2 linked regions of the Homo sapiens genome follow. Changing the gene in region 2 together with the main gene of any one other region gives a genetic interaction. Each region holds a gene or a part of one and is shown on either strand. Other genes may lie near its edges.

Region 1 (15,925 bases), on a different chromosome or scaffold from region 2:
TTGTACCTGCTGTGCCACTGGCCACCTCCCTTAGCCACACACACAACCTGCACGTGGACCAGAGGCAGTTCATCAGAGCGGCCCGCTGTGGTTTGAGTGAAGAGCCGGGAGGGTTCACATCTGAATCTCCGACAGCGTCCCAGGGCCAATGCAGCTCCCCTCCCCACCGTCCTGGATGTCTGGAAGCTCCCAGAGGGCCCCGGGTCTGGTTTGGTGGCTTGAGGCTGAATGACACACACAAGAGGCTAAGACCCAGGGGCTGCCAGACACCTCAGGGTGACCAAGGCAGGAGCAGCAGGACAGCAGTTTCCATAGTGACAGCCCCGGAGGTGCTGCGAAGCCTGGGGCATGGGCGGGTTTAGGGCGGGTGGCCCCCACTTACCCGCCTGGCCACCTGTACTGCCTGTGTCTGAGAGTGGCACCTGTTCTGTGGGGTGGGGGAGGTGTTCTGTGGCTCCTTGGCTCTTCCGTGATTTTTTTTTTTTTTTTGAGACACAGTCTTACTCCCATCACCCAGGCTGGAGTGCAGTGGTGCAACCTCAGCTCACTGCAGCCTCGATCTCCCAGGCTCGCATGATTCTCCCACTTCAGCCCCCTAAGTAGCTGGGATTACAGGTACCCGCCACCACACCCGGCTAATTTTGTATATTTTTTTTTAGAGATGGGATTTTGCCGTGTTGCCCAGGCTGGTCTCAAACTCCTGGATTCAAGTAATCCACCTGCCTCAGCCTCACAAAGTGGTGGGATTACAGGCATGAGCCATCGTGCCTGGCGGGATATTTTTTAGATAGAGTCTTGCTCTGTTGCCCAGGCTGGTGTACAGGATCATAGCTTACTGTAGCCTCCATCTCCCAGGCTCAACTGATCCTCCCACTTCATCCTCCTGAGTAGCTGGGACTACAGGCGCGCACCACTATGCCTGGCTAATTTTGTATTATTTGTAGAGATGGGGGTCTCACTACATTGCCGAGGCTGGTCTTGAATTCCTGGGTTCAAGCCATCCTCCCACCTTGACCTCCCAAACCTTCCAAGGATATGAATGCCATCTGGGCTGGCCTTTCTAGCACTGCCCTGGGTGCTGGGGAGGCAGTGTGGGACAAAACACAGAGTTGAATGCTACTGGGGGATTCGGGGTGTGGGGACATGAGAGACAGCAGATTAGATAGTCAGATGGCAGAGTGTTGGGGAAAAAAAGGCAGCGGAGAAGGGGTTAAAATGTAAGGAGGAATCAGGGAAGCCACCACCAGGAGGAGACATTTGGGAAAGAACATTCCAGAATCCTGAGAGGTGCTCAAGGAATGGCCAGGAGTCTAGTGTGGCTAGAGCCGAGGGGAGGGGAGAAGCGGGGGATGAGGGGAGGGCACGGGGCAGGCAGGTGGTGCACAGCTGCGGGAGGAGAGGGCTTGCCTCTGAGCTAGGTTTCCAAGTTCACAGCCCCCAGTGCCTGTGGGGGACAAGCCACAGGGGCAGGAGATAGGGAGGCGGTGGCAGCAGCGTCCTGAGAGGGCAGGGCAGGTAGGGGAGAAGCGGTTGGGTTCTGGGCCTGCTGGGCAGTGGAGCCAGCTGGGTTGGCCATCAGGGTTCTGTCGTGAACAGAGGAGGACAGGCTGGACACCTGGAAAAGATGGCGCGAGGCCCTGCGGAAGCCCCTCCCACTGGAGAGCTCTGGTAGTCCAGTGAGGTCGGGCCACTCTCAATTTCCTTCCCTGCTGGCCAGGACCTTCGTGGGGATCCAGGCCTCTGAGGCCTCCAGGATGGAGGATGCCACCAACGTCGTGCGTGGCCTCATCGTTGAGCTCTCCAACCTGAAGTACGGGGTGGGCTTGGACTCACGGCACAGGGTCTGCGGGAGGCCAGTGGGGACTCAGAGGAGCAGGGAGGGACTGAAGTGTGAAGCCCCTAGGTGGGCAGCGAGGGTCAGGCACCTCACTGCTGCTGGGTCCTCACCGTGGCCCCCCTCCCCCGTCCTTTGCAGAACACAGGCTCTGAAGAAAGGCTGCAACAGGCCCAGCCTGTGCTACAACAGGCCCTTTCTGGTTATGTGCACGTGTGTGAGCCGTGTGTGTGCACCTGAGTCATTGGTGACCATGTGGCTGTGAGGCGCGGCCCCCTCTGTCACCTGGTGACCACTGAGCCCCACACGCATGCCTGTGTTTCCCCCACAGCCGGCTGATCATGGGCACCCACCGGGACCTGGAAGCTTTCAAGCGCCTTAACTACCGGAAGACAAAGCTGGGAGGCAAAGCCCCCCTGCCTTACCCTTCCAAGGGGCCTGGGAATATCCCTCGAGGGGACCCACCCTGGAGGGAGTTGTAGGCCACTTTGAGGTCTGTGTTTCCTTTGCCACCCAGCCCCCATGTCCGCAGACCTCCTCCAAGATGCTCCAGGGGGTCCTAGTGGACCCTACAAACCTCCCTTCAGTTGCCCGGAAGTTGGTCTTCCATGGACAACACAAAGGAGGCCGTGAGGTCCTGGCCTCACCTGGCCAGGGTCAAGGTCATTTGCCACCCTTGGCTTCAGGGAGGGAAACTGTGTCTCCCACAGCCCCAGTGACTTCAAGCGGGCCTGGGCTCCAGGAAGCTGGCCACCTCTGAGCAGGGCCCATCCTGTCCGGATTTGCAAATTTTAGGGTCCTGAGCCAAGTATGGATGGTTCAGAATTTGTTTCTTTCCTGGAGGAGAAGAGAGCTCCCTTTGTTTTCTTTCTCCCCATTTCCATTTTATTTCTTCTGGGAAGACCCATAATAAATGATTCTGTAGAGGCCCCGTGACCTGCTGTTTGGGGCTGAGGCTTCAGTTCCTTCACCTTCCGCCCACAAACCTCTCTACCCACTTCCTCCTCCTCGCCCTCTACGAGTTTTATGCCTCAGCTTCCCTGGGAAAGCAAGGGGGGGGCGAATCTCCAGGGGTGGGTGACTGTGTGCCCACATCTGTGTGCAGGCTCTTGAGCATACACGCGGGTCGAAGCCTAAGAGACGCCCTGGGCGATCATCCAGCTGCAGGGTGAGTCCTGCGCTCCGGTGGCTTGGCCCATCCTCCAGGACAAGCTGCCTGTGGGCCCCAGACAGGAAGGAGGCCATCCCAGGAGGTTATGGATGCAAACATGGCTGAAGTCGTGGCATTTCTCATCCCACGCAAGCCTCTCGAGCCAGATGACAGTCCTGTTAGCAACCACAGGGGCTGCTGTCATCCCCAGTTTACAGAAAACAATGCCTCTGTGAAATCTGTCACTGAAAGGCTGACTGGACCTTCGACATCATGAAGCACTCTGTGACTCCTGCACCCCAGCTCCCATGGCTCAGGCGGGGTCCTCCTCCCACCCTGCAGCCTTACACCCTGGAGACCTGATGCAGGAGGGGAGGAAAGAGCAGGGTGGGTTCACACCCAGGTGAGCCCCCTGTCCACCAGGACATGCCCTGGTGTAAGCCCAGTTCCCCGGGTCTCCAGCCCCAGCGGCTCTGCCCTAGGAAACTGTAACTCCATTCCCAGACCCTGGGAGCCGCTGGGATCCTTCTGTTTTCTTTCTCCTCCTCCCCACTTCCCCCTCCACGACCCAGCTGTCTGCAAGAGCCCACCCCCATCCCCAGGGCCTCCGGTTCCAATTTAAGTCTTTTAAGTCGGAAAGCCAAGGGCAGAGGGGACAGCAAAGAGCTCGATTCCTGCTCCCCGCTGCCAGACCACAGGCCTCAGGGCTGGTTTGTGGGACGGGGGCGGGGTAGGAATGTGGACTGCACAGTGGGCGCACTGGCTTCCTGAGCACTGCCACCTGTTGCCCCAACAGGACAAGATCTGGAGGTGGAGGAGGCAGGCAGGGGTGTGGGGATTCCCCCACATGCATTTCCCCCCCGCCCTGCCAGAACAGCCCCATCCTTCTGCTCCTGCCCAAGCCCACCCAGGACATGGTCCCATTCCCTGCCCCCTAAATGTCCCTCCCTTGCTCTAAACTGCCTGGCTTGTCACTGGGGCATCCATGGTGACATAAACATTCACCTTCCTTAGTGATGAGGATGTCGGGGGGGGGGGCTCTGTCTAGTTGTGTGTCAATTTCTTCCTCAAATGAAGCCCCCACCTCCAGTACGGAGCTGGGGGTGGGATGGGAGGAGTCCACCCATCTTGCATGTCAGTGCAGGGGGTGGCTGAAAGACCAAATGTCCACAGAAAGGGTCTCATGATGTCGATCTGGCTTTGAGGTGCCATGAACCCCCCCAGCTACCCCAAGGCACCCACTTGTGTTTCTCTGCACAAAGCAGCTCACCCCAGCACCCCAGGGTGCCGAAACTCAAAGAAGGAGAAGGGGAGATCTAGGTACAGGACTCCCAGCAAGGTTCACACTACACCTTGTCCCAAGACCAGGGCTTGTCTGTTGTTGATCCATTCATAAGCATTTATTGAGGGCTGACTGGATGCCCAGCACTAGGGAAACGGCAGATGGCACAAAGGGTGGGGTCCCCAAGGACAGGGCGATTTCAGCTCTTCCCTTGCCAACCCCGGGTCATCCCCAGGGCTCAATCCCAGGCTGGGGGGAGGGTCTGGGAGTGGGGGCAGTCGTCATAGGGTGGGTCTTCCTGGAAATCCAGCCGAGCCCGGGTGCCCTTGCCCAGGTGTAGGCAGCCTCCTAGGTGGACATGGAGGGAGAGCAGGAGGGCGAAGGCTCAGACTTCCCGGCACCTCTGAAACCTAGTGGAGGGGGAGGGAGAGAAATGCTTAATCACAGGCGATGACTCAACGCTCCCCAAGTTGCCCACGGACTCGGCCTCCGGGCCTGCTGGACCTCTGGCGCCACCCAGGGGCTGCTCCGGAGACAGCGACCCCGTGACGTCTCTGGCTCCGCCGGGCGGCCCCGCTGGGACCCAGAGCCCGAGACAAAGCACAGGAGTTCCGATTCTGCGACTGTGGTGCCCTCTCGTGGCCGCCGTGCTCTGGGGTCCCCGGATCTGTTACTCCCAAAAGTTGTTCATCAGAAAGGCTGGCCGCAGGACACCATCTTCCCTATGTCCTTTTGGCCTCCAGCGTCTCCCAGTGAGACAGCATCAAACCTCACAGGAAACACTATCTTCTCCTGGAGGCAGTCTTTCATGCTTTCTTTTTTTTGTGAGACGGAGTCTCACTCTGTCGCCCAGGCTGGAGTGCAGTGACGTGACCTCAGCTCACTGCGACCTCCACCTCCCGGGTTCTAGCGATTCTCCTGTCTCAGCCCCCCGAGTAGCAGGGATTACAGGCGCATGCCACCATGCCCAGTTAATTTTTTGTATTTTCAGTAGAGACGGGGTTTCACCATGTTGGCCAGGCTGGTCTTGAATTCCTGACCTCAGGTGATCCACCTGCCTCAGCTTCCCCAAGTACTGGGATTACAGGCATGAGCCACCATGACCAGTGCTTTTTTTTTTTTTTAAGACGAGGTCTTGCTGTGTTGCCCAGGCTGCAGTGCAGTGGCACCATCTCAGCTCACTGCAGCCTCTGTCCCCTGGACCCAAGCGATCCTCCCTCGTCAGCCTCCCAAGTAGCTGGGACTACAGGCACACACTACCATGCCCAGCTAATTTTTTGTAGACACTGGGTTTCACCATGTTGCCCTGGCTGGTCTCAAACTCTTGGGCTCAAGCGATCCTCCTGCCTTGGCCTCCCAAAGTATTGGGATTACAGGTGTAAGCCATCACACCTGACCCTTTCATGACTTTAAGAAATGTTCACTGCAAAGCTGCCTGAGAGTAGTTGGGAGGGGTCGTCCTCTCCCAGTCACTATCCTCCAGGAGCTCACAGTCTGCTGGGGGAGGCAGTGCCCAAACACACCTAGTTAGACTGGCCCCTCCTCTGTTAGCTGACTTCCTCAAAGGCAATTTAAGTTGCTAGAACGAGTTTCTCTTTTAAAACCTCACTGGGGGCCAGGCATGGTGGCTCAAGCCTGTAATATCAGCACTTCGGGAGGCTAAGGCGGGTGGATCTCGAGGTCAGGAGTTCAAGACTCAGCCTGGCCAAGATGGTGAAATCCCGTCTGTACTAAAAATACAAAAATTAGCCGTGCGTGGTGGTGGGTGCCTGTAATCCCAGCTACTCGGGAGGCTGAGGTAAGAGAATCGCTTGAACCCGGGAGACAGGTTGCAGTGAGCCAAGATCGCGCCACTGCACTCTAGCCTGGGTGACAGAGCAAGACTCCATCTCAGAAAAATAATCAAATAAAAGAAAGAAAGAAAGAAAACCTCACTGGGGCCAGGCGTGGTGGCTCACGCCTATAATCCTAGCATTTTGGGATGCCTAGGCAGGAGGATCACCTAAGCCGTGTTTGAGACCGGCCTGGGAAACATAGTAAGACCCTGTTTCTATGGGAGGAAAAAAAAAACACACCAGGAATGGTGGTGCACGCCTGTAATTCCAGCTACTCGGGAGGCTGAGGCAGGAGAATCGCTTGAACCCAGGAGGCAGAGGTTGCAGTGAGCCAAGATCGCACCACTGAACTCCATCCAGCCTGGGTGGATAGAGCGAGACTCTATCTCAAAAAAAAAAATTAAAAAAAAAAAGGAAGAAAAATAAATTGATAAATAAATAAAATAAAAGTCTTCTTTCTGCATCTATAATAACCCTGCGGGCCAGATGTGGTGGCTGATGCCTGTAATCCCAGCACTTTGGGAGGCTGAGGAGGGTGGATCACGAGGTTGGGAGTTCGAGACCAGCCTGGCCAACATGGTGAAACCCCATCTCTACTAAAAATACAAAAATTAGCTGGCCATGGTGGCAGGCGCCTGTAATCTCAGCTTCTCAGGAGGCTGAGGCAGAAGAATCGCTTGAACCCGGAAGGCAGAGGTTGCAGTGAGCCAAGATCATGCCACTGCACTCCAGCCTGGGTGACAGAAAGAGACTCTGTCTCAAGATAAATAAATAAATACATAAACAAACTGGCTCGGTGCGGTGCTCACGCCTGTAATCTCAGCAGTTTGGGAGGCCGAGGTGGGCGGATCACGAGATCAGGAGTTTTGAGACCAGCCTGGCCAACATGGTGAAACCCCATCTCTACTAAAAATACAAAATTTAGCCGGGCATGGTGGCAATTAGCCGGGTGTGGTGGCGCGCGCCTATAATCCCAGCTACCCAGGAAGCTGGGGCAGGAGAATCGCTTGAATCCAGGAGGTGGAGGTTGCAGTGAGCCGAGATGGCGCCACTGCACTCCAGCCTGAGCAACAGAAAGAGACCTGTCTCAAGATAAATAAATAAATACGTAAATAAAATCAACTGCTGTTCTAAGCTCTCTCTAAGGTCTTCCCCTAACCCTTGGAGGTGGGTACTGGGGCTAATCTTACTTCACAGGGGGGCTCAGCCACTACCCTCGGACAGGTCCCCCCCAGCCACCTGTGCAGGCACCTGCTCCTCCTCCTCCTCCTCGGCGGTGGCCTGTGTCCTGTGTCTTCGCCTTGTCAGGCCGGACCAGCTTCTTGCCTGCCGAGTTTCGGGTGGTGTGGCTGTAGACGGAGGTGTAGCCCTGGCCAGTAAGTGGGCAGAAGCGTCGGGTGTGGGCGCGCTCACGTGTGGCGCCGCACTGGGGACACACGTAGTCCCGCAGGATGGGACACAGCACCCTGCCAGCCTCGTCCTTCAGCACGTGGGACTGGTAGATGGCCCGGGACTCGCCGTTGTGTTTGCAGAAAGAGCACAGGCGTTCGGGAGCTGGCGAGGACTCCAGGCTGCGCTTCTGATCCTTGGGTCCCGGCACTGGCACCGACTCCGGCGCTGGCATCGGCTCCAGGGCTGACACCGGCTCCAGCATTGGCTCTGGCTCTGGCTGGGGGCTCAGCCTGGTTTCAGGACCCTCTTTCCCACTCAGAGCCCTAACCAGGTGTGCCAAACCCAGGTAATCTGTCCACAGGTCAAAGGTCCCCATAGCTGGGCAGCATGTGCCAGGCGGAAGGAGTCACAGAGACAAGTAACCCTGCCTGGCTTAAGCTCCCTCCTTCTGACCCCTCTCTGCTGCCCCTTCCTTCCCCTCTCTGGAGCCTGGGAGTCTGTGCTGGCCGACCCTCCTTTTACCTCCAAGGGGGTGTGAAGAGGGAGGAGCAGGCTGTGGGAGGTTCCTTATTGTCACAGGGGGGCCTGGTGCCCCACTAATACTCCTCCTAAAGGGCTGTATGGCCTCTGGCTGTGCCGGGGGACTACAGGACACAGGGTGTGTGGGGGGGCATCCTGCGAGGTGCACCACAGCCCCCCGTACACACCTCCAGGGAATTGGGGGGCTACCCTGCCTCCCCTCCTTGTAGGAGTCCTTAGCCCTCCAGCCCCACTGGAGGATGGGGAGAATGGGTTGGAAACCCCACCCCCAAAGACTAGCAGTTACCAGTAACTTAAAGAAGTTAACTTAGTAACTTCTTTATAACTTTTTCTTCCTTCCCCTGGGCGGGGGAGTGGCCAGGTGCCCCTGGGTTCTTTGTGTGTGTGTGTGTCCAGGCGGGAGGTTGCTGATGCTCCAGCTGTCTCTGAAAGGAGTGTGGTAGTCCCAGGCTCATGGGCTGGTTGCGGGGGTAGGGGGGAAGGATCATGCCCCCCGGCCCCCAGCTCTGGTCTCCCTCCAAGAGTTTTCACATCGGTTGTCTTAGTGGAACCCCCATTGAATGGATGAGCAAACTGAGGTGTGAAGCCACCTGCCCATCCAGTTATTTATAAAGACATGCACCAGGCCAGGGAGTGGTGGCTCATGCCTGTCATCCCAACAGTTTGGGAGGCCAAGACAGGCGGATCACCTGAGGTCAAGAGTTCGAGACCAGCCTGGCTAACATGGTGAAACCCTGTCTCTACTAAAAATACACACACACACACACACACACACAAAATTAGCTGGGCATGGTGGCGGGTGCCTGTGATCCCAGCTACTCAGGAGGCTGAGGCAGAAGAATTGCTTGAACCCAGGAGGCAGAGGTTGCGGTGAGCCAAGATCAAGCCACTGCACTCCAGCCTGGGAAACAGAGTAAGACTCTGTCTCAAAACAACAACAACAAAAAGCACCACATCTGCCTCCTTCTTCTAGTTACTGGGGCCCCCTGAGGCTAGGTGCTGGGGAGGGAGCCCTTTCCTGGCGGGGGCTGCAGAGGGGTGAGAAAGAACCCTCTGGAGTTGGGAGGTGGGGGATAGCAAGTTGGGCTGTTAGGAGGGGACCCCTAGTACCTACAGGTCTTCAGTGTCCTCCCCGAGATGAGATCTCAGCTCAGTCCCAGGAGGGGAGGGTGTGCTCAGGACTTGGACACAGAGGAGAGACGCTGTGCCGCTTACACAGCTCATCCACCCATCCATTCATTTAAGAAACTTTTATTGGCCAGGCACTGTGGCTCATTTTGAGAGGCCGAGGAGGATTGCTTGAACCTAGGAGTTGGAGACCAGCCTGGGCAACGTTTTGAGACCCTGTTCCTACAAAAACACTTTTTCGAAATAAGCTAGGTGTGGTGGTGCGTGCCCGTGGTTCCGGCTACTGGGGAGGCTGAGGCGGGAGGATCAACGCTTGACTCCAGTTATTAGAGGCTGCAGTGAGCTAAGGTCACACCATTGCACTCCAGCCTGGGTGACAAGAGCGAGATCCTGTCTCTAATTTAAAAAACAAAACTATGGAGCACTCCACGGAGCAGAACTTACCACCCACATTTCAGAAAGGGGTTTTAGGCCAGGCAAAGTGGCTCATGCCTGTAATCCCAGCACTTTGGGAGGCCGAGGGGGGAGGATTACTTGAGGTCAGGAGTTTGAGACCAGCCTGGCCAACACAGTGAAATCTCGTCTCTACTAAAAATACAAAAATTAGCCCACTGTGGTGGCAGATGCCTGTAATCCCAGCTACTTGGGAGGCTGAGGCCAGAGAATCACTCAAACCCTGGAGGCAGAGGTTGCAGTGAGCTGAGATTGGGCCACTGCACTCCAGCCTAGGCAACAGAGTGAGACTCTGTCTTAAAAAAAAAAAAAAAAGGGGATTTTAGCTGCCCTGCCCCAGCCTGTTTACCCCCAACCCTCTAATATTTAGTCCCAAATCCAGCCAGAGCCCATCCAGATTCCAGACACCAGCTCTCCTCTCCAAAGAGGAGTGGTTGGGGTCAGGGCAAAAAACAGGCTGAGTGACTGTGGCGGTGGGGGGTCCTGTCCCCAGTCCCCATTCCCCTTAAGCCGTGTCTGGCCCAGCCACAGTGACATTCATCCCCCGGTGGGTCTGGCCTCAGTCCTCACAACCCACCGACAACAATGAATGTTGATTGTGACCTCGGCTGTGGCCTAGGGGAGGGGACGTGCCCAGGCTGGATTGGGGGCTCCCCAGGCCCCCCTAGATCTGGAAGGTCAGAGTCACCGGCAGGAGGATGGCAATTCCAGGCCTCAGGGTCCACTCAACGGTCGATGGTTTGCCTGAGCTGCCCAAACTCACCGACAGGTTGAATGTTCCCCCAAACCCTTGGCAAATTTTCCGGGACCTGGAGTCGGGGGTGGGGTAGGTGGCAGGGAACCAGAGAGCATGAAGAGGGAGAGGAGGAGAGAGTAAGGAACCCCTTTTCTCTCATGAAATAAACAAACGCTTTTCAGGTGCTGTTTGCACCTAGATCTGGGAAAAACACAAGGCAAATATAAATGCTAGTAAATAAAATGTAGCCTTTGCTATGGGGATGGAGATGTAGCAGTGCAGGGGAGTGCTGGCCTCAAGCCCGCTCCTTAAGTAATTCACAAAGTGATCCTGGAGGTGCAGATTACCCCCCTTTGTCAACTGGGGAGACTGAGGCCAAAGGCCACTGCTAGTCCGAGGTGGAGGAGGCATTCCAAGTGTTCCCGGGAAGTCTGGCAACGGAGGATCCTGGCCCCGAGGGCATTGATGCAACGTGGAGATAAACAAGCCATTTTAATACAATGTAATACGTTCTGGGAGCTTCACTGAGTTCCGGGCACGATGGTTTAGGAATCACAACAGCGTGAGTGGAGCGCTTGGGGGTGGGGGGTCGTCAGGTCTCTCCACTTTACAAGTGCACTGGGGCCCCACTAGACAGGGGAGAGGCAGGAGGTTCAGAGAGGGCGCCGCTCGCCCCGCGTGCGCGGTCACACAGCATCTGAACTCGGGCACTTCCGGAGGGAGTCCGCGCAGCCACGTGGGGGCTGCCCCTTGGGCCTCAAAACCGGCTGCGGCGCCCCCTCTCCATTTCCTCATCCCTCAAATGACCCCCAGTCCCTTCCTCCAGTGATCGCACAGAGTTCGGCGACCACCCCCCCGCCCCGGGTGCCCCCAGGCCTACAGGTACGCACCCCTATCTCCCACCCCCCGCAAGCCAAGCAGTGACGACCAGGGATGGGCGAGCGCGCCTTCGCCCCTGACCTGGGTCTGCGGACGGCCTAGGAAGGTGCACCCGGCATGGCCGGGTGCTGCGGCTCAGGCCTGTAATTCAGTATTTTGGGAGGCTGAGGCGGGAGGATCTTTTGAGCCCAGGAGATGGAGACCAACCTGAGCAACATAGCGAGATACCTGTCCCTACAAAAAAATTAGCTGGGTGTGGTGTAGTGAGCCTGTAGTCTTAGCTACTTAGGAGGCTGAGATGGGAGGATCGCTTGGACCCCAAGAGTTCGAGGCTCGAGGCTGCAGTGAGCCGTGATCGCGCCACTGTATTCCAGCCTGGGTCACAGGACGAGACCCCGTCGTCGCAAAAAAATAAGTAATTTCCTGGCCCCTGGCATTTCACCGAGGGGAATACTGAGGCCCAAAATAACCGCCTGGCATAACCCCAAGGTAGATGAGGGACCCCCAAGTGTGCCGAGCTGCGTGAACCACCCCCCCACCACACCCCTCACGGTGGTGGCAACGGAACCCGGCCGAGCCCCCGAGGACGCGCCCCCGAGAGCCCCGCCCCCGAGAGCCCCACCCACAGTCTGGAGCCACCAGCCAAGGCCCCAGCCCAGGCCCTGCCCCTTAGAGCCCCGTCGCTTTTGACCTGTTCCCCAGAACACACTCCCTCTAAAACCCGCCCATATAGACTCCCACGGAGCCCACCGCCAAACCCCTAAGCCAGTCCTCAAAGAGCCCAGCTCCCTTAGGGCCCGCCCCCTTAGAGCCCTCCACAAAAGCCTGCTCTATAGACGCCCCGGGACTGCGTCCTGCCCCCACGAAGCCCAACCCCCCACTAAGGTCCGCCCCGACCGGGCACGCCCCCAAACCGAATTTCGTAGGGCCCCTCAAGCCCGATCCCGGCTAACTCGCCCTCCCGAAGCCCCCCTCCCGCCTCCCGGCACCTTCTAGAGCCCTTTCCCCAGAGCCCGCCCTCTCACCCGCCCCGGGTCGGGGTCACGTTCCCACCCCTCTGTCTGGAGCTGGAGTGGGGCGCCCTCTCTCGCAGCTCATCCGCCACGTCCAGCAGATCCTCCCATTCAGGCTGTGGAGTGGGGGGGCCTGATCGGCTTCTCTTTATCCGCCACCTCCACCCCAGGTGTCCAGGCCCTTCCGAGGGAGGTGGCCGGTCCCCTGCCTTGTGGATCATCATTCTAAGGAGGAGAACGCCTAGGACTTGGGAAGGAGAGTGAGTTGGGAGCACAGGTGTTAATAATTACATTACTGATGATAACGCTACATTCATCACGCTGTGAGCAGGATATACCCATTTTGTGGACTGGGAAGGTAAGTGGCTCTGTTAGTCCAGAACTCTCAAGATTCCTCAAAAGCTTGGTTCTTGTCTGTAGTCCCAGCTAGTTGGGAGGCAGGAGGATGGCTGGAGCCCAGAAGTTGAGACTAGCCTGGAAAACACAGTGAGACCCCCATCTCTCTCTCTCTCTCTTTTTTTTTTTTTTTTTGAGATGGAGTCTTGCTCTGTCACCCAGGCTGGAGTGCAGTGGCGCGATCTCTGCCCACTGCAATTTCCACCTCCTGGGTTCAAGCAGTTCTCCTGCCTCAGCCTCCTGAGTAGCTGGGACTACAGGCACCTGCCACTATGGCCAGCTAATTTTTGTATTTTGAGTAGAGACAGGGTTTCACTATGTTGGCCAGGTTGGTCTCCAACTCCTGGGCCTCCCAAAGTGCTGGGATTACAGGCATGAACCACGGCACCCAGCAGTGGTTCTTTAAAACCCCGTTTCTTTAAAAAAGAAAAATCTTTATTCTCTTTTTTGTTGCTGTTGTTGTTTTGTTTTGTTTTGTTTTGAGACGGGGTCTCGCTCTGTTGCCCAGGCTGGAGTGCAGTGGCGCAATCACAGCTCACTGCAGCCTCGACCTCCCAGCCCCAACCAATCCTCCCACCTTAGCTTCCCAAGTAGCTGGGATCACAGGTGCCTGGCCTGGCTAACTTAAAACAAAAACAAACAAATAAAAAAAAGTTTTGTAGAGATGAGATCTCACTATGTTGCCCAGGCTGGTCGCGAACTCCTGGGCCTCCCAAAGTTCTGGGATTACAGGCATGAGCCACCTCGTCCCACAGGAATCTTTCTTCTTGATGACTGTGAACAGCTTTAATGTTGGGGGCGGGGGGTCATCAGGCAGGAGACATTCTGGCTATGTTGGAGGGGGTTCCCCAGACACCTCCTGTGTGTCCTTTCTGCCTCCCACTCCTCCCTCTGAGGGCTTTGGCCTTGAACTGCCAAGGAGGTTGTTCCCTGTAAGGTTTCTCCCTAAGACAAGACACAAGACCACAGTGGAAGAGGGGTCTGGTCTTGAAGGCCAGGAAGCTGGGGCTGGGGCGACAGGAGGCCGGCAGCCCCAATCCTGGGTCTGACTATCTCTCTTCTTTGCCTGTGGTCCGTGCAGGCTTCTGGCCCTCAGTGTCCATCTGGGTCCACCTGTCTCTTGGTCATCCCAGGGTCGTCTGTCTGGGTCGGACTATGCCCCTCACACATCTGTTCTCCATCTGGGTCTCCTGCCCAGCCCGTGCACCTGCCTCAAACTGTCTGGATCTGCCTGTATGTGTCTAGCTGTTTACCCCCCATCTCCATCTCCTGTCTGTGACTGGTGACCGTGATACCTGTCCCCTCCTGTCCCCTGAGGGAGTCTGCAGCCCTGCCCTGCTTGTCTGGTTGCAGCTGTCTGCTGGTTTGACTTTGAAGTCCCTCAGAGTGGGAGGTGACAAGCTGTCTCCTCCTGCTTGTGACCCTGAGCCTCAGTGCATGGGGGGTAGGGGTGTCTTTCAGGGCCTTCATTTTGCTTCTTCTTTATCCTTAGTTCCTGGGACCCCTCACCTGACCCCAGTGCAGCTGGGAGGGTCTTTCTGGGCAGGGGAGCTGGGGATAAGTGGGGTGTGGGGGACGGCCCTCTAAAAGCCACGTTATGAGCCGGGCACGGTGGCTCATTCCTGTAATCCCAGCACTTTGGGAGGCCGAGGCGGGCAGATCAGTTGAGGTCAGGAGTTCGAGACCAGCCTAACCAACATGGTGAAACCCCATCTCTACTAAAAATACAAACAAACAAAAAAAAAGTAGCCAGGCATGGTGGCGCACACCTGTAGTCCCAGCTACTTGGGAGGCTGAGGCACGAGAATTGCTTGAACCTGGGAGGCAGAGATTGCAGTGAGCCGAGATTGAGCCACTGCACTCCAGCCTGAGTGACAGAGTGAGACTCCGTCTCAAAAAAAAAAAAAAAAAAAAAAAAAGCCACGCTATCCCAGGGCCTTGCCCCCACCCCCCCACACATAGCACCAGGAAGGTGCAGGGCAGCTGGCACAAGTCGGGGGATCAGAGTCGGAGGTGAGAAGTCCTAGCAGAGGCAGGTGAGCAAGTGATGGATGGATGGATGGATGGAGGCAGCTCTACCGTCAAGCTGAAGAACAAGGCTGGGCGCCGGGTGGCTCATGCCCGTCATCCCACTGCTTTGGGAGGCCAAAGCAGGAAGACTGACTGAGCACAGGAGTTCAAGACCAGCCTGAGCAACATGGTGAAACCCTGGCTCAACTAAAAATAGAAAAACTTAGCCGGGTGTGGTGGTGTGCGCCTGTAGTCCCAGCTATTTGGGAGGCTGAGGTGGGAGGATCACGCAAGCCAGGGAAGTCGAGGCTGACGGAAGCCAGGGAAGTCGAGGCTGCAGTGAGTGAGACGCAGTCACGCCACTGCACTCCAGCCCAGGCTACAGGAGTGAGACCCTGTCTCAAAAAAAAAAAAATAGTTGAAGAACAAGGTGGGCATGGCTAGAAGGCCAGGTCTCCAAGCTCCCAGGGGTGTCTGGCGGCCCGTGTGTCCTGCCCGTGATTCTTGAAGTCTTGACTGTGAAGTCCCTCAGGGTGGGAGGTGGCAAGCTGTCTCCTCTCGATCTCAACCCTGAGCCTTGGTGCATGGGGGTTGGGGGTGTCTCTGTATGTTCACGCATGAGTACCTATATATATGCTCCTGTGTGTCTGTGTGTTGTATGTAACTGTATGTGTGTGCGTGTGTGTGTGTGTGTGCGTGCGTGTGTGTGTGTGTGTACTTGGGCCTGGAAGGGGGACACGGGGTGGGGGAGGTCGTCAGGACCTGGCAGACAAAGAGCCCATTATGGGGGTTCCAGCGACACCAAGAGCCCTGTGGGGGTCTCCGTGGGGTCACGGTGATGGCCCAGGCTGTCTAGACTGGCAAGCAGGGGTGTCTCGTTTCAGTGATACCTGCGTGGGCTCTGAGGTTCCCACCCCACCCTCCGCAGGCCACCTCCCCCACTTCCTTTCCAGCTGCGGGAGTCTTTCATGCCAGGGGTCCTCAGACAAGGGGCTCCTCTGTCCCACCCAGCCCGTGGGCGGTGGGTGGGCTAGGAGCCCAGCTTCCTTCCCAGGCCTGCCAGATGTGAGGCCAGGGCTGGGGAAGGCGAGAAGGTTCTGGCTTCTCCAGGAATGGGATTGGGGGCTATGGAGGGGCCAAGCTGAAGGAGAATTCAGGCCGGGCACGGTGGCTCATGCCCGTAGTCCCAACGCTTTGGGAGGCCGAGGCAGGAGGATCACTTGAGCCCAGGAGTTCAAGATCAGCCTGGGCAACGCAGTGAGACCTCATCTCTACAA
Region 2 (15,495 bases):
TCAACCCCAATCACAGCCACCATTTCCTTGAAAATACTTAAAACATGAGGGTGCTAGACTGTAGCCCAGTGAGGCCTTGGATAAACAGCATCATCACTGAGCTTCAGTTCCTCCACGTGCCACACTGGAACAGGACCCCTCCTTTCCCCTACCTAACAGGCACTGTCTCTATGCTTCAATATCCTCATCTGTCAAATGGGGATAATAGCATTATCCAGATAATTAAATGAGTTATACACAGAGTGGTCAGATATTGTCTTACAGACACTGGAGGAGCTGCACGTGTGTTTGTAAGGGAAGAAAAAGAAAAGGAAGGAAATGAAGAGAAAAACACAGGATATACTAGAAGAAAGAGCGCCCAGGAAAGTAATTCAGGGATCTGAGTTCGTAGGCTGGCTCCTCCTCTTAAACACTAGCAACAAGGCTTAGAGGAAGTCACGGCGCTCTGCCTGCACACCCATCCTCTCTGTTAAGTGTGAATATTGAATAAGCACCCCTGACCCTCCGGCAGGGCTGCGTTCTTAATCAAAATACCAGTCACACATAGATAATTAAGTCCCTAAAATTCAAGTTTTGCAAAGGGAAGATTCTACATGGCATAAATCCAAGATGTCTGTGGCCTGGGGACAGTACCCCATGTTTGTTGGTGTCTGATTTATTTCACTGAATGCTTCACTGGAATACCTAACTCCAAGTAGATGAGGAACGAACAGAAAAGATTCCACAGTTGGTTTCTTACTCATTTAAGAAATGACAAACCATCCCGGGAGCCATCTGAGAACACTGCACGATGCCAGGCACCTGGAGGAGTACGAAGCTGACCCTCCGTGTGGGCACACACCCTGGTAATTCTTGCTAACATGCTGCAGTGAATGGACCTTATCCTTACATGAGTAAGTGTGACCTCCCTGAGGTAGGCCCCTGGGAAGTCTTGCTATTTCCAGACTACAGCCTGGAGGAGGCCTTGTCAAATGGCAGTGCTTTACACAGAGGACACGTTAGGAGCCCGACAGCTCTCAATCTTGCCCACAGTTTGCCTTGTGGGGTGCTCTTTGTATGTAGAAAGAGAAAGAAGTTTGAAGGAAAGACAGAAATCTGCTTGTCCTCATCCAACAGCATGTCAGCTTGCTTCTGTACCATTCTTTAGGCATAAAGGGACCTGCTGGTGTTCTTCACATTCCCTGAAAAGCACTGGTGTGTTTTACTTGGCAAACATATCATAAGTGTAATATATTAAAAAATACATCTTTAAAGCTGCCATTTCCAAATGTTTATTATCTGCTTAAAATTAGTATGCTCCATCTTCCTCACTCGGCAGACCATGATGTCTAGCTAATTTCAAGAATCATGATACACATACGCTTAGCCCTCCTTAATGACAGTAATCATTTTCATTTGTACAGCCCACTGCCAGGCACCTGCCAAAACAGAAAGATACATAAGCCACGGTAAAAGGTCTACATACAAGTATATGAGAGATGACAGATTCTGCCATACTTTTACATAATTCCTTATGTGATCCATATATAAAAATAGATACATGTGTTATTATTGTTTTCCACTTTCCAGATGTAACTGAAGCTCTAAGGGATTGATCAGGCCAGGCACAGTGGCTCACATCTGTAATCCCAGCACTGTGGGAGGCCAAGGCGGGCAGATCACTTGAGGTCAGGAGTTCGAGACCAGCCTGGCTGACATGTAGAAACCCCATCTCTACTAAAAATACAAAAGTTAGCTGGGTGTGGTGGTGCACCCCTGTAATCCCAGCTTCTCAGGAGGCTGAGGTAGGAGAATTGCTTGAACCTGGGAGGCAGAGGTTGCAGTCAGCCGAGATCATGCCACTGCACTCCAGCCTGGGAGACAGAGAGAGACTCCAGGTGGAAAAAAAAAAAAAAAAAAGAGATTGATCATCTTACTACTGGCTCCAGAGCTGGGGACCTGAGCAAGACCTCGTCTCCTGGGATAGTTCCAATGCCCTTCCATTCACTGGCCTTGTTGCCACTGAAAGCCCCACTTACTTCTCTGTTCCAAGTTAAAGCTGAGAACAAAATGGACACATAACGAAAACAGATTTACCTACAAAGTTCTCTTTTCTTTGAAATTTAGCAAATAATAAGTCGTTTCTAAAATGTCAAGTTTAAATTAAACTCAGCATTTTCTAAATGTTGCATAAAACACATTCAGCTTTCCTTAAAGCAGAGAAAGACAAGGGTTGATGTTTTTCTATCCTACTGGCTGAGAAATACAGCTCAGGGCAGGATGCATACATAACAAACGCAGCCCTCTGAGTCTTTGCCCCACTCTCCTTCGTGCCAGCCAAGCTCTACAACATTTCAAAGGCATCGTTCTCCCCTACAAGAAGAGCTATGTGAAATGCCCACACAGCCCTCGCAGGAAAAAATGGGGGAAAGTCATGATAACACCTGCCATCCTTTACCTGCATTTTGTGATTATTGAGCTTGTTTGCACATCAGACACCATTTCATCCTCACTGGTGTGGCCTCCACAGAGCCAACATCCTCACCCTCTCTCAGCAGGTAAGGAAATCGAGGCTCTCAGGGAAGCATTTGGTACTGCCACATAACCTGCTAAGTCATGGGTCCCATTCAGATTCCACGTACAGAATTCTCTACCACCCCACATGGCCGCTTGTCACAGAATGTCACCTCACCTCACATAAAGGGCACCTTTGGCGTTCTGGATCAAGAGCAAGTAGATCTCAGGGTGCTCCCAACAGAGAGCAGAACCTCAGTTTTCTCACCTGCAAACTTGGGAGGTGCAGCCAGATGACCTTTTCCTAAAAGTCCAAGTCTGACATGCAGCATTAAGCAAGTCCACTCCCTGAGGTGCAAGCTACCCATTTTGCATGCAGTCCTGGTCATCCTGAAGGAGAGGCCTATGGTATCAGTGAAATCAGGCACTGCTAGACTCCCTGGTCCACGACATTGCCAACGCCAGATGGATTCGAAAAGTTGTATTTGGGAGCACAGAGGCCTCTGCAAGCTGCTTACACATCACAGAGGAGCATGAAGCCTTCAACTCCATGGAGCCCATCACTGACGGTGGCCATCTGACCTTTGGGTAAAATGTAGATGCTCTGCAACTCGCTTCACGGAACTGCTGACAACCTCTGTGTGTTAAATGAGTAATACATGAACACTTCATGATCTGTAAGCACCACCTTAAATGTTTCTTTCTCCTGAAAAGAGTGCAGCTTGGACGTGAAGGAAGGCTGAAGTTGCACGGCAGGCTGCCACTCTGAGACGGAACCAAAAGAAATAAGGCACCATTTCTAACTTTTAAACCGAGATCACAAAATAAACAGACAAAAATATCTAAGTGTATTACCTTCACCAACTGAAACCTAAACCTTTTTGCAGGTGTCGACCAACCACGTACTCCAGCAACTTATACTCAAGAATTCAACATGCAGAGAACGATGTCTATTCTCAAATGTGCAGTGCCACCCACCTCTAGACAGAGGTGCATCTGTTAAAACACAGGGGCTGCTGTGGAGATCTGTCTCTTCATCACCAGCTGGGGAAGCATCATTTCAAAGCTGTTCCCACTACCACTTCCCGAACAGCTTGCATCTGTTACTACGAAGTGGCCACATTCTTATATAAGCCAACCCTCCATCTGGGCACTAGACAAGTGATCTTCAAACAGTCTGTGGAGCAGGAGAGGCCTGCTTTAAACTTTTTTTTTTCCAGTTTCCAACCCACCGTGGTCTGGTACTTTGGCAAAATACAATAAAAATGAATTACTAGAGCCCCCCAGACTTTTTTCTTGGCCAGGTAAGATGGCTCACACCTATAATCCCAGCACTTTGGGAGGCCGAGGTGGGAGGATCGCTTGAGCCCAGGAGTTCAAGACAGCCTGAGCAATATGGCAAAACTCTGTTTCTACAGAAAAAAAAAAATTAGCTGGGCGTTGTGGTGCTCACCTGTAGTCCTAGCTACCCGGGAGGCTGAGGTGGGAGGATTACCTGAGCCTGGAAAGTTGATGCTACAGTGAGCTATGATTGCACCCCTGCATGCCTGCCTGTGCTACAGAGCTGGAGGGCTGTGTCGTGATGCAGTGCTGGATGCAGTGTGTGTCTCAGGGTTTCGCTCTGTCACCCAGGCTGGAGTGCAATGGTGTGATCATAGCTCACTGCAGCCTGGGCTCTAGTGGTCTTCCTGCCTCACCCTCCCAAGTAGTCAGAACTACAGGTGGGTGGCACCAAACCCAGCTAATTTTTTATTTTTTATTTTTTTGTAGAGATGGGGTCTCACTATGTTGCTCAGGCTGGAAACTGTTTTTTTAAATGGAAAACAAGTGTTGGCAAGGATGTGGAGAAACTGGAACCCTCATATACTATGGTAAGAATATAAAACGATGCAGCTGCTGTGAAAAACAGTAACATGTTCCTCAAAAATTACATATAGACTTACCATAGGACCCAGCAATTCCACTTCTAGGCATACACCCAGAAGAAGTGAAATCAGACATTCAAACAAAGACTTGTACACAAATGTTCAAAGCAGCACTATTCACATTACCCAAAAGGTGGAAACAACCCAATATCCCTCAACTGATGAACGGCTAAACAAAATGTGGTATATCCATCCATACTATGGAATGATATTGAGCCACAAAAACGAATGAAATACTGATCTATACGACAGTGTAGCTGAATCATGAAAACATTTAAGCTAAGCGAAGCAAGACACAAAAGGCTACATATTATGAGATTCCATTCCAGAACTGGCAAATCTATAGAGACAGAAAGCAGATTAGTGATTACCAGGGGGCTGGAGGAGGGAGGATGGGGGGTTTCCTTTTGGGGTGATGAAAGTGCCTTGCAATCAGATAGAGGTGACGGTTGCCCAACTCTGTGAATGTACCAAATGCCACTGAATTGTACACTTTAATTATGGTTAATAGTTAATGTTAGGTGGATTCTACCTCAATAAAAAATAGGCTACTAGAAAAATGAAAGACAAAAAATACAAGCCCCAATATTTTATCAACCTCAACAGACAAAACTGCTCTACCAAATTGCTATAAAGTTTGTTTCCTCTCTATTTCTTATCTCCCCTCTTAGACAAGTAACAAAGCACTCCCAGACCCACATCAGACCATGGCCCCCACTCTGCAGACCCTTGGTTCCCACCCCACCTGGCTTGCTCAGGGTCACCCCTACAGCAATTGTGCCCTCCACACACTCCCTGTATCCACAAATTCTCCCTCTATTGGGATCGCCCTCATCAGCATACAAGCGTATTATAAAATCTCTCTTCTTTAAAGAAGGAGCCAAGGCCCTTCCTTGAACTCACTTCCCCACGGGTTGACGTCCCATCCCACTATTCCTCTTACAGCAAAACTCCTGAAGAGCTGCCTGTATTCACTGCACCAATTCTTCTCTCCCATGCACTCCTGAATACGCAGGCAGGCTTTGGTTCTCACCTCCCACCAAAGTGACCACTCAGAAGGTCACTGATCATTTCCACCTTGCAACAGCTGATGGTCGATTCCAGTCCTCATCTCATTTGACATATCAGCACTCTTTGGCTCTCATTAAAATCCTTTAATTTGGCTTCTAAGGCACCGCTCACACACAGTTTCCCTCCTGCCTCACAGGCTGCTCCTCCTCCCTCTTTTCCTTGCTAGTCCTCCTCATCTACAGGGCCATAAACACTGGAGACACGCAGGCTCAGTCCCTGGTCCTTTATATTCTCCACCTACATTCATCTCTCCAAATGATCTCATCACATTGACTTCAAATAAACCTATGCACTGAACCCCCAAATCTTCATCTCCAGTAGAGATATTTCCCCTCCCCCTCAGACTCCACACATCCAACTCCTAATCAACAATCCACTTGGGTGGTTCATGGACATCTCAAACTTAACACATGCAAAGTTAAACTCGTAATGCACACAAACTTATTTTTCCCATAGTCTTCTTTACCTCAATAATTGGAAACCCCAATCTACTTTGGAATTATCTTCGAGGAGTGTACAAATACGTAGAAAATCAAAATACCAATTGGTCAGGTCAAAAATTAAGGAGTCATCCTTCACTCCTCTCTTCCTGTCCCATCCAAAGACCAACAGCAAATCTTGTTGGTTCTATCTTTAAAATATATCCAGAATTCGACCACCCGTCATCACTGCCACGCTCCCACCCTCACTCAGCCACCATCTTCTTTTGCCAGAATTACTGCCATCACCTTCTAACTGGTCTCCCAGCTTCCACCCTTGCATCCCTATAGTCTATAAGAAAACAGTCATCAGGGTGATCATTTAAAAGCACAAGACAGACAAATCACCCTGTGCTTGAACCCTGCTATGGCTCCCCATCTCACTTGAAATAAAAGCCTAATTGTTTCCAATAGCTTACAAAGACCTGCAAGATCTGACTCCACCATCTCTCTGACCTACCCTCTTAACGTTTTTCAGGATAAGGAAAGAAGGAATGGCTCCTATCCTTTTACAAAGAAAAGCATTAAAAAGCAGTAACACGACAAAAGGAAAACTTGCCCTGTAAAATGCCCCCCTCCCCCCGCCCAACATTCCATTTATTTCATGTTGCCAGCTTTATAGCAAACCCAGAGGAAGACACTGAACTTGGGTTCATTTTTTTAGATGACAGAGAAGCTAAGCTTAAATTTATTTTTAAAGAAACTGAAGAACATAGATTTAATGGGCAAATTTATACTTAAATAAGACTTTAAAGAAGACATTAAACCTACTGAAAACACTGTCTTTCAAGTTCTTTAGAAATCCCTATTTAGAATAAATAATAACTTACATATTAACACAATCAACCAAAGGAACTTAGACTTGACGGATCTGCCACATGTAACTGGTTATGAGCCAACCTTTGCCGATATCTCACAAATGAATATACTGATGTCCGCATCCCCACCCATCATTTCCTGTCTCTAGCCTCAGCCCCACCTCCCAGAAGGGCTAACATGCTCTCAAAGAACACCCCACTGTGTCAATGCTGATAAAACTGAGGATCCAGTGTCCCATGAGATGACCTTTGAGGTGTCCTTACTGACCTCCAAACACGCTTCCTTTACCTTCCCACTTGCTTTGTAAAAATTCATGCAATATAAAAAAAGCCAAAATAGCACACATTTGGAAGGCATTAAGCCTTCTGTTAAAAATTAGCTGGGATTTTGATTTTCTACGTATTTGTACACTCCTTCTCGAAGATAATTCCAAAGTAGATAGTGCTGAGATTTTACTTCCCAGCTCTCGTTTCTGAAGCTTGGGCCTCCTACTTAACTGTTAGTGGGTTAGCAGGGTACCAGGAAGTTAAGCCTGGGGCCTCCTCACACACTACTCTTTCAAATAAACACATGGCCAGAAAAGTAATAAGGAATTGTAGGTGGTATTCACCTATTCTTCTTTCCCTGTGAGCGCTAGTACAGCTGGTCTTTTTCTTTCCTGGACTGTAACCTCTTTCCTTCTGAGTCGCTTCCTTTTCTGCCATAAATTCAAATGCCTACCGCTCCTCTCCAAATTCGCTCCTCTCTGCTCTAATAAATTGCCTCTTATATTTTTGTCTTACTGCCTTGCTCTGAATTTACACCTTTGTCTCAAGAACGCCAGTGCTTCAAAAAATATTCCATTATTCCTGGTGTAAGAAGCTCAGGCAATTTCTTCCTGAAAGTGGGTTTCATTCTTAATTTTCTGTATTAACAAATGTTCCTTTAACTGCTTCATCCCCAAATTGTGCAGACAGGCCAGTTAGGATTCTGACCTTTCATGCTTGCACGCCCTTACAGGCCAAACTCAGTTAAAAATAATACCAGATTCATTCATTCATTCACTCAACCAACAAATAAATAAAAGGCATCACAGCAGGTAAGAAAGTATAGAAAATGTGTTGTTTGTCCTTAGGGAGCTTATAAGCCAAATAAATATATAGACTCAAAAGCAGTATGAAAGAAGGACCTATGGGCACACATTATATAGTATGAATACTTATAAAACAGAGTTGTGCTTGTCCACTCCCAACGGAAAGTGATTCTTAATAAAAGTGAAACTGCAATCAACAATGTGTACTTCGGCCTCTCTGCAGCTCAAACTACATAGGCTCCCGTGACCTATATATTTCATATTAATAGAAGTCCTTTATTTTATGTTAATATGGTAAATAAAGCATAACTTGCCCAGCTATTTTAGACTTTCTGGTTCTGAATTTGGAAATCAAAGCATGGTTCTGATTCTCATTCTCTAAGTTCTCTAAAGAGTCAAGTTACTTAGAAAATGAACATATCCTTTTATTTAGCACAGAGTAAATTCTTCTAGATTGGTTTCTCTTCCAAGACACCCTCTACTGCCCTGATTTCCACTTACTGCCTATTGTGTATGTTTCTCACTTTCCTACATCAAAAGAGGATGCTTAACTATAAAGAACTTAAACACGGGATCTGGAAACGCAGCAGCTGTAAAGACCTGCCTCTCACCACAGTGAAAATGCTGGGGGATGTTAAAATTGAAGTCGAGTTACTATGTATTTCAAAGTGCTTTGATTCATTAAACAGTCATTTTTTATTTCAAAGCCATTATATCAGAGTTATTTGCATTGCTACTGCATAAACTCTGAGATCTATTGTATTCAAAAATGTTTTATTATGTTGTTTTCGCCAAAAAGATGAATACGCCTTCAATTTTAAAATGAAAGTCTTTGGGAAAGGAGTTTTCAATGCACAGAAACTCACTTCACAAAAAATACCAGGTCTTGAACCACATTTAAAGTGCCCCTGTATTTCATATTGATCCTCCATAAAATACATTTTTAGCTTCCAAGGGAGAGTCTCTCATCTTACTCCTGTCACTCTAGGAATCCAGAAAGGAAAAAAAACATGATATTAAGAATCAAGCATAGCAAAGTCATTTTATAACTAAATTCTTTAAAGGATACTTATCCAAGCTTCACACAGCAATAAAATTTCCAACAATTACTAACAGCTAAGCCATTAGACACAGCTAATGACCCAATACTGGATAGCCATCCTCTCTCAACCCCAAATCCAGTCTGTGTGACCAGACACCTACCGCTCGCCCTGGCTTCCGGGTAAGAGGGAGCATCCTCAAAAGTGAAGAACTGGGGCACGCTCTGGCCCAGGTAAGAGGGAGGCGGGTAGTAAGAATGCATCCTGTACTGGGAGCTCATTGCATGGCGGTTCTCCATGTTCTTCATCTGCTTAAGAAAAAAGAAGAAATATACTGAGATCAACATTGCATGTCACAACTAGTACAATAATTATCTAGTTCTTTAAAACAAGGTAACAGGCTGGGCACAGTGGCTCATGCCTATGTTCCCGACACCTTGGGAGGCCAGGGCGGGAGGATCGCTTGAGCCCAGGAGTTCAAGACCAGCCAGGGCAACACAGTGAAACCTCTTTTCTACATAAAAATCAAAAAATTGTTTGGGTGTGATAGTGCACGAGTGAGATCTCAGCTACTCAGGAGGCTGAGGTAGGAAGATCACTTGAACCCAGGAGTTTGAGGCTGTAGTGAGCCGTGGCTGCTTGCACTACTGCACTCCAGCCTGGGCAACAGAGAAAGACCCTGTCTCAAAAAAAAAAAGCAAATTAAGGGAATAGCCTATCTAAGTTGGAAGTGGCCTCAGCCATGAATATGCTCTTCCAATGTACTGGGCCTAGAACTATGATGGTGCCCTTTCTATCTTAAGGTCCCCTCTAAAGCACCCCTGAAATTCCTTCTGTTCATTTGGTGCTCGATTAACCAGTACAAAAGAGAACAGGGTGGTGGAGAGGGGACAACACAATCTGCTGTAACACTAACAAATTTGTTTGAACGGGCGCAAGTTATCAGACCTCTTCCCATGTTTCTTCATGTGCAAAACTGGAATTTTATCTTGGTTACCTTACAGTGTTCATATAAGGAGAGTATTTAAAATGACTATAGGCTGGACGCAGTGGCTCACGTCTGTAATCCCAGCACTTTGGGAGGCCAAGATGGGCAGATCACAAGGTCAGGAAATCGAGATCATCCTGGCTAACACAATGAAACCCCATCTCTCCTAAAAATACAAGAAAATTAGCCAGACGTGGTGGCGGGCACCTGTGGTCCCAGCTACTTGGGAGGCTGAGGCAGGAGAATGGCGTGAACCCGGGAGGCAGAGCTTGTACTGAGCCGAGATCGCGCCACTGCACTCCAGCCTGGGCGACAGAGCGAGACTCTGTCTAAAAAATATATATATATTAAAAAAAACAAATAAATAAATACTGTAAAACAACATGCAAACCATGTGTAATGGGAAGCTGTGGACATTAGCACAATGCCATGCTGGATCCTGTTAGTCGGTGTCTGTTCCCTGCAGCAAGAACAGGAGTCTGAGATCTGAATTCTGGAGGTGATTTGGCTTCTGCTAACTGGACACATGGGGCAGAGCAAAACTCGGAAGGCAGTAAGGAGGCACAAGCGCCCCTCCAGTGGCAGCTGCATGTGAGCACAGCAGTCATTCATTTTTTTCCGGCAACCAGACCCTGCCTTTAGGACCATGAGATAGCTTTTATATAAGAAGCAGTTCATTCCCTGTGGCTTCCTGATTCTCATTCAAAGCTAAGAAGATATGACTTGATGGCTTAGAAAGGGCCCCCCCTCCATTTCCACTTTCCTGGCCCTGATGACTCTGATTGTGTAAGACCCACTTCCATGAACATCTAGACCCTGTTAGAGACACCGAGCATTCAACTCATGATCACATCTTCACGGCAACAACAGAGCTGGACTTCAGTTATTTATGACAGTCTTTTAAAACTTAAATTTAGATGGTACTCGCTTTTAAACAAAATTCGATCTAAGGGAATGTTCAAGATAAACCAATTCTGTCCAGAAATATGAGTAATTTCAAAATAATCCAAAATAATTCAAAATCATGTTTTTCAATCAAGTATTTTAAATGGTACTTGAAAAAGAAAATAGCACTAACTTGACAGAGCCTGGTAGTGTAAAATTAGGCACTGGGCTTCCTCAAGATTTTCTATGAACATCTACATTCTGGACAATTCACCAACTAACACTGGCTTAAGTGTACTTTGGGTATTATGGTGCTGTTTGGTAGAAAGAGCTAAGTCCCTGATTTCTGCCTGATGCTTTGAGCAGCTCAAGGAATTTATTTTTGATCTCTACTGCTCTCAAGCTCAAATCTATGTTCTCATGAGTGGATTACTTCTTCTGGAGAAGCAAAGATACCATTACAGGTGATTATTTCCTCTCAAGTGAAGTTTACCTGGGTAAGTCCCCTTTATCCTTTCTAGTTTGTTTTTCTGAAGTATATGAAATGGTGTCTCTTCTAGGCCAATCACTCCGTTTTCACTTTCTACCATTACATTAAATCTTTTTTTTTTTTTTTTTTTTTTTGAGACAGAGTCCCACTCTGTCGCCCAGGCTGGACTGCAGTGGCATGATATTGGCTCATTGCAAGCTCCGCCTCCCAGGTTCACGTCATTCTCCTGCCTCAGCCTCCCGAGTAGCTGGGACTACAGGCGCCCGCCACCATGCCTGGCTAATTTTTTGCATTTTTAGAAGAGACAGGGTTTTACCGTGTTAGCCAGGATGGTCTCGATCTCATGACCTCGTGATCTGCCCGCCTCGGCCTCCCAAAGTGCTGGGATTACAGGCGTGAGCCACCGCGCCTGGCCACATTAAATCTTTACTAAATAGAAGGTTAAAGAAGCTATACTCGGAAAACAGCCAAAAAGGAAAAACTGGCTACCCCTAATAAATAAGACCACACAGCAGAAGAGCCCATTAAGAAGCCACTAAACCATTTAAGAGAAAAGGGACAATCATGGTAGCTGTTTACTACACACACCCAGTTATCAATTAGAGCACTGCAGCATCTTTTGATGATTCCCAGCAGCTCTCAATGCGCATATGAATGGCCAGGGGGTCCTGTTAAAATGCAGGTCCTGATGGTAAGACTGGGCTGGAGATGCTGATATTGCTGGTGCCCAGGGACTAGAATACGTGATCCTTCCTCTCATACTTAGTACCTCTCAGAACCCAAGACCAAAGGAAACCCTTTAAAAAAAATTGTTTGAGACCGAGTCTCACTCTGTTGCCCAGGCTGGAGTGCAATGGCACAATCTCGGCTCACTGCAACCTCTGCTTCCTGGCTTCAAGCGATTCTCCTGCGTCAGCCTCCTGAGTAGCCTACTCTACAGACATGCCCCACCACGTCCGGCTAATTTTTGTATTTTTAGTAGAGACGTTTTCTCCATGTTGCCTAGGCTGGTCTCAAATTCCTGGCCTCAAGTGATCCGCCCGCCTCGGCATCCCAAAGTGCTGAGATTACAAGTGTCAGCCACTGCCCCAGCTTAAAAAAAAAAAAAAATTACCAGTTGCTTACAACCATCCAGTTTCCAGCTGAACTGGAAAAGTGAAACTATGTAAATAGCAATTTTTAATTTTCATTCTTTTTTTATTTTTATACACAAAATTCCCCAGAACTAAAAGATTTTTTTCAGGGGTCTGTTGCCATCTACAACTGCTGCAGCAGTAAAAACTCAAACACACTTTGAATTGAAAAGCCATTTGTGTCTCCATAGACTTCCTTAAGTCAATTACACAGTCTGAGTAGTGAACACTGAATTAGAAGCAAGGTGCCGACATAAGCCGTAATATAAATAATGGAGCCTCCCTGCTCTGGGGGCTGAGTTTGTCACATCTACTTCAGGTTTGACAATATCTTCAAGCCAGTTCTTCAAGGAAAATGCTTTTCAATTTTGCCAGGGTACAAGAAAACAGATAGGATTTGGGCCTAAATGCTCTGCAAAATGCTGGATGTTTTTTTTACTATGAAAGTTTACACAAACCTTCCTTTCAAAATGTTTGAAAAATGTTGATCATGAGTCTATAGCAGGTGTCAGCAAACTTTTTATTGTAAATGTCAAACAGTATATATATTTTAGGCAAGCCATACAGTCTCTAGCAATTTGTAAAATGAATGGGCATGGCTGTGTTCCAATAAAACTTTATTTGTAAACAGTGGCACTGGTTCCTTCTCAAACTTCACTCTCACTGGAGTAAGGTGAGAAGGGAACTCAGTACTGATGCCTGGACTCCACTCAAGAAAATCTGGTTTAACTGCTCTGGGATGTGGCCTGGGCCCTGGATATTTTCAAAGATCCCAGTTAATTCTAATATGACACCGAGATTGAGAACCAGTGCTCTACAATTACCAACATATCGTCCATATACCTTGGAAGTACGAGATCCCAACAATCCCCTATATTAACTAAAACAGGCTAAATCTGACAAATAGACTGGCTAACGCTGCCAATCCCAATGTATGTATTATTTGACAAAAAGATGAAGATGAACAGTAAAATTCTTTTTTTTAACTAACGCTTACTGGAAAATAAACACAATTTCAAATCCATGCGTGTGCTTATTTATTCCCTTAATTCCTTTTCCATGTTTTCCAAAAGCATGAAATAAAAAGAACTATTAGGAAATAGGAATTTAGTTATTTATATTCAAACATTCACTATCCTTAATGAATCCCCAAGATCACTGAGCTATAAAAGAATTCCAGTAAAAGAAGAAAAAGATACAAAGGGTCAGACTCCATTTGAGGTTACTAGAATGTGAACTGATATGGTTTGGCTCTGTGTCCTCACTCAAATCTCATCTCACACCGTAATCTCCACGTGTCAAAGAAGGAACGTGGTAGGCGGTGGTGATTGGATCATGGGGGCGGTTGCCCCAATCTGTTCTCATGATATGGAGGGAGTTCTCTTGAGATCTGATGCTTTAAAAGTGTTTGGCAGTTTCCCCTGTTCTCTTTCTCCTCTCTCCTGCTGCCTTGTGAAGAAGAGAAGGTGCCTGCTTCTTCTTCGCCTTCTGACATGACTGCAAGTTTCCTGACGCCTCCCCAGCCATGCGGACCTGTGAGTTAATTAGACCTCTTTTTTTATTTATAAATTACCCAGTCTTGGGTAGTATCTTTACAGCAGTGTGAGAACAGACTAGTACATGAACTTACTGAGGTCATCAGTCACTTCAGCTACATCCACCTCAAAGAATCCACAAACAACCCATCCACGTGACAACTTGCTCATAAGAAGAAAAGGACAGTTCTATGTGTTTCTAAGTGCATGTGTAGCAATATAAACAGGATGTTAAAACTGCAATTCATGGATGGGCGCGGTGGCTCACGCCTGCAGTCCCAACATTTTGGAAGGCTGTGGTGAGTGGATCACCTGAGGTCAGGAGTTCAAGACCAGCCTGACCAACATGGTGAATCTCCGTCTCTACTAAATACAAACAATTAGCTGGGTGTGGTGGCAGGCGCCTATAATCCCAGCTACTTGGGAGGCTGAGGCAGGAGAATCGCTTGAACCCAGGAGGCAGAGGTTGCAGTGAGCTGAAATTGCACCACTGCACTCCAGCCTGGGCGACAGAGTGCGACTCCATCTAAAAAAAAAAAAAAAAAAAAAAAAAAAAAAAAAAAAAAAAATGCAATTAACCCAGAAAAAGGCATGGCAGAATGCAATTTCAAACTAAATTACTTCCTGCTCTCTTCTAACTTTAAAAAGAAAATCACAACCCTGCTACTTTTGGCTTAAACAAAATGGGAAATTAACGAAGCCTTTGAAACTCACTTTACTTTAAACCAGTAGTTCTGAACTAGGGGCAGTCTGATCCTCCACAGGGCATCTGGCAACATCTGGAGACGCTTTTGATTGTGACAAGGGGGCAGGGAGTTGATGCTGGCATCTAGTGGTCAAGGTCAGGGATGCTGCTGACTGTCACTACAGTGTAGTGTCCCACAATTCCCACAGGACACAGAATTAACCAACCCAAGGCCTGAACAGCGCCAAGGTGAGAAGCTCCCTTTAAACTAACTGAGCACCACCCCTGTGCTCAGTCCCTCACCTCCAGCTAGAAGAAAACAGCTAAGTGCTGCTGAGGGACAAGAGCGGCAAAGAAATCAGAGGAGCCACTCAGTTTTCCTAAAGGGATATATATTTTTCTCCTTTGTGAAATGCCTCCTTGTTTCCTCTCAAGGTTTTTTTTTATTCCTTCAAGCTAAGCAAATAAATAAACCAAGTAAACCCTAAAAACCCAGGATTCCAGTGAATGATGACTACTATTATTATTAGCAGTGGTCACTGGCAAGCAAGAGGCATGTTTTATACGTTATTACCCATCCAAAGTCTCTGAACCAGAGTACGACCCATGGATAAGAGCTGGCTGGTGGAGGATGCTCATGGTGTTAGTATTAACTTTGCAGGCAACCCAAGACCTTGGAGTTGTGTTCTATTAAATTGTTAAGAATATGCATTACAGTAAACCCGAGCCATAATTTCCTTTTATACGTGTTAGCCACCCTATTTTATAGTAACAATAATATCTGAAAAAAAAACCATAAAAATGTTTGAGTTCACTTCTTTTTTTAAAAAAAAAAATCCCAAATACCAGTCACTGGTTATCTAGTAACAGTTTAGATGAG

Evidence for each region.
Region 1: of DMRT1 (region 2) and NANOS3, changing one enhances a phenotype caused by changing the other (phenotypic enhancement), as found in Homo sapiens cells (one study listed by BioGRID).

Annotation. Positions count from the first base shown.
Region 1 is NC_000019.10:13,869,193-13,885,117, reverse strand, and holds NANOS3 (nanos homolog 3), read right to left. Parts: upstream 7,985-15,925; 5' UTR 7,870-7,984; coding exon 7,353-7,869; intron 4,677-7,352; coding exon 4,615-4,676; 3' UTR 4,361-4,614; downstream 1-4,360. UniProt on the Homo sapiens protein: Plays a role in the maintenance of the undifferentiated state of germ cells regulating the spermatogonia cell cycle and inducing a prolonged transit in G1 phase. Affects cell proliferation probably by repressing translation of specific mRNAs.
Region 2 is NC_000009.12:910,475-925,969, reverse strand, and holds part of DMRT1 (doublesex- and mab-3-related transcription factor 1), read right to left. Parts: intron 9,211-15,495; coding exon of another isoform or gene 9,208-9,210; coding exon 9,063-9,207; intron 1-9,062. UniProt on the Homo sapiens protein: Transcription factor that plays a key role in male sex determination and differentiation by controlling testis development and male germ cell proliferation.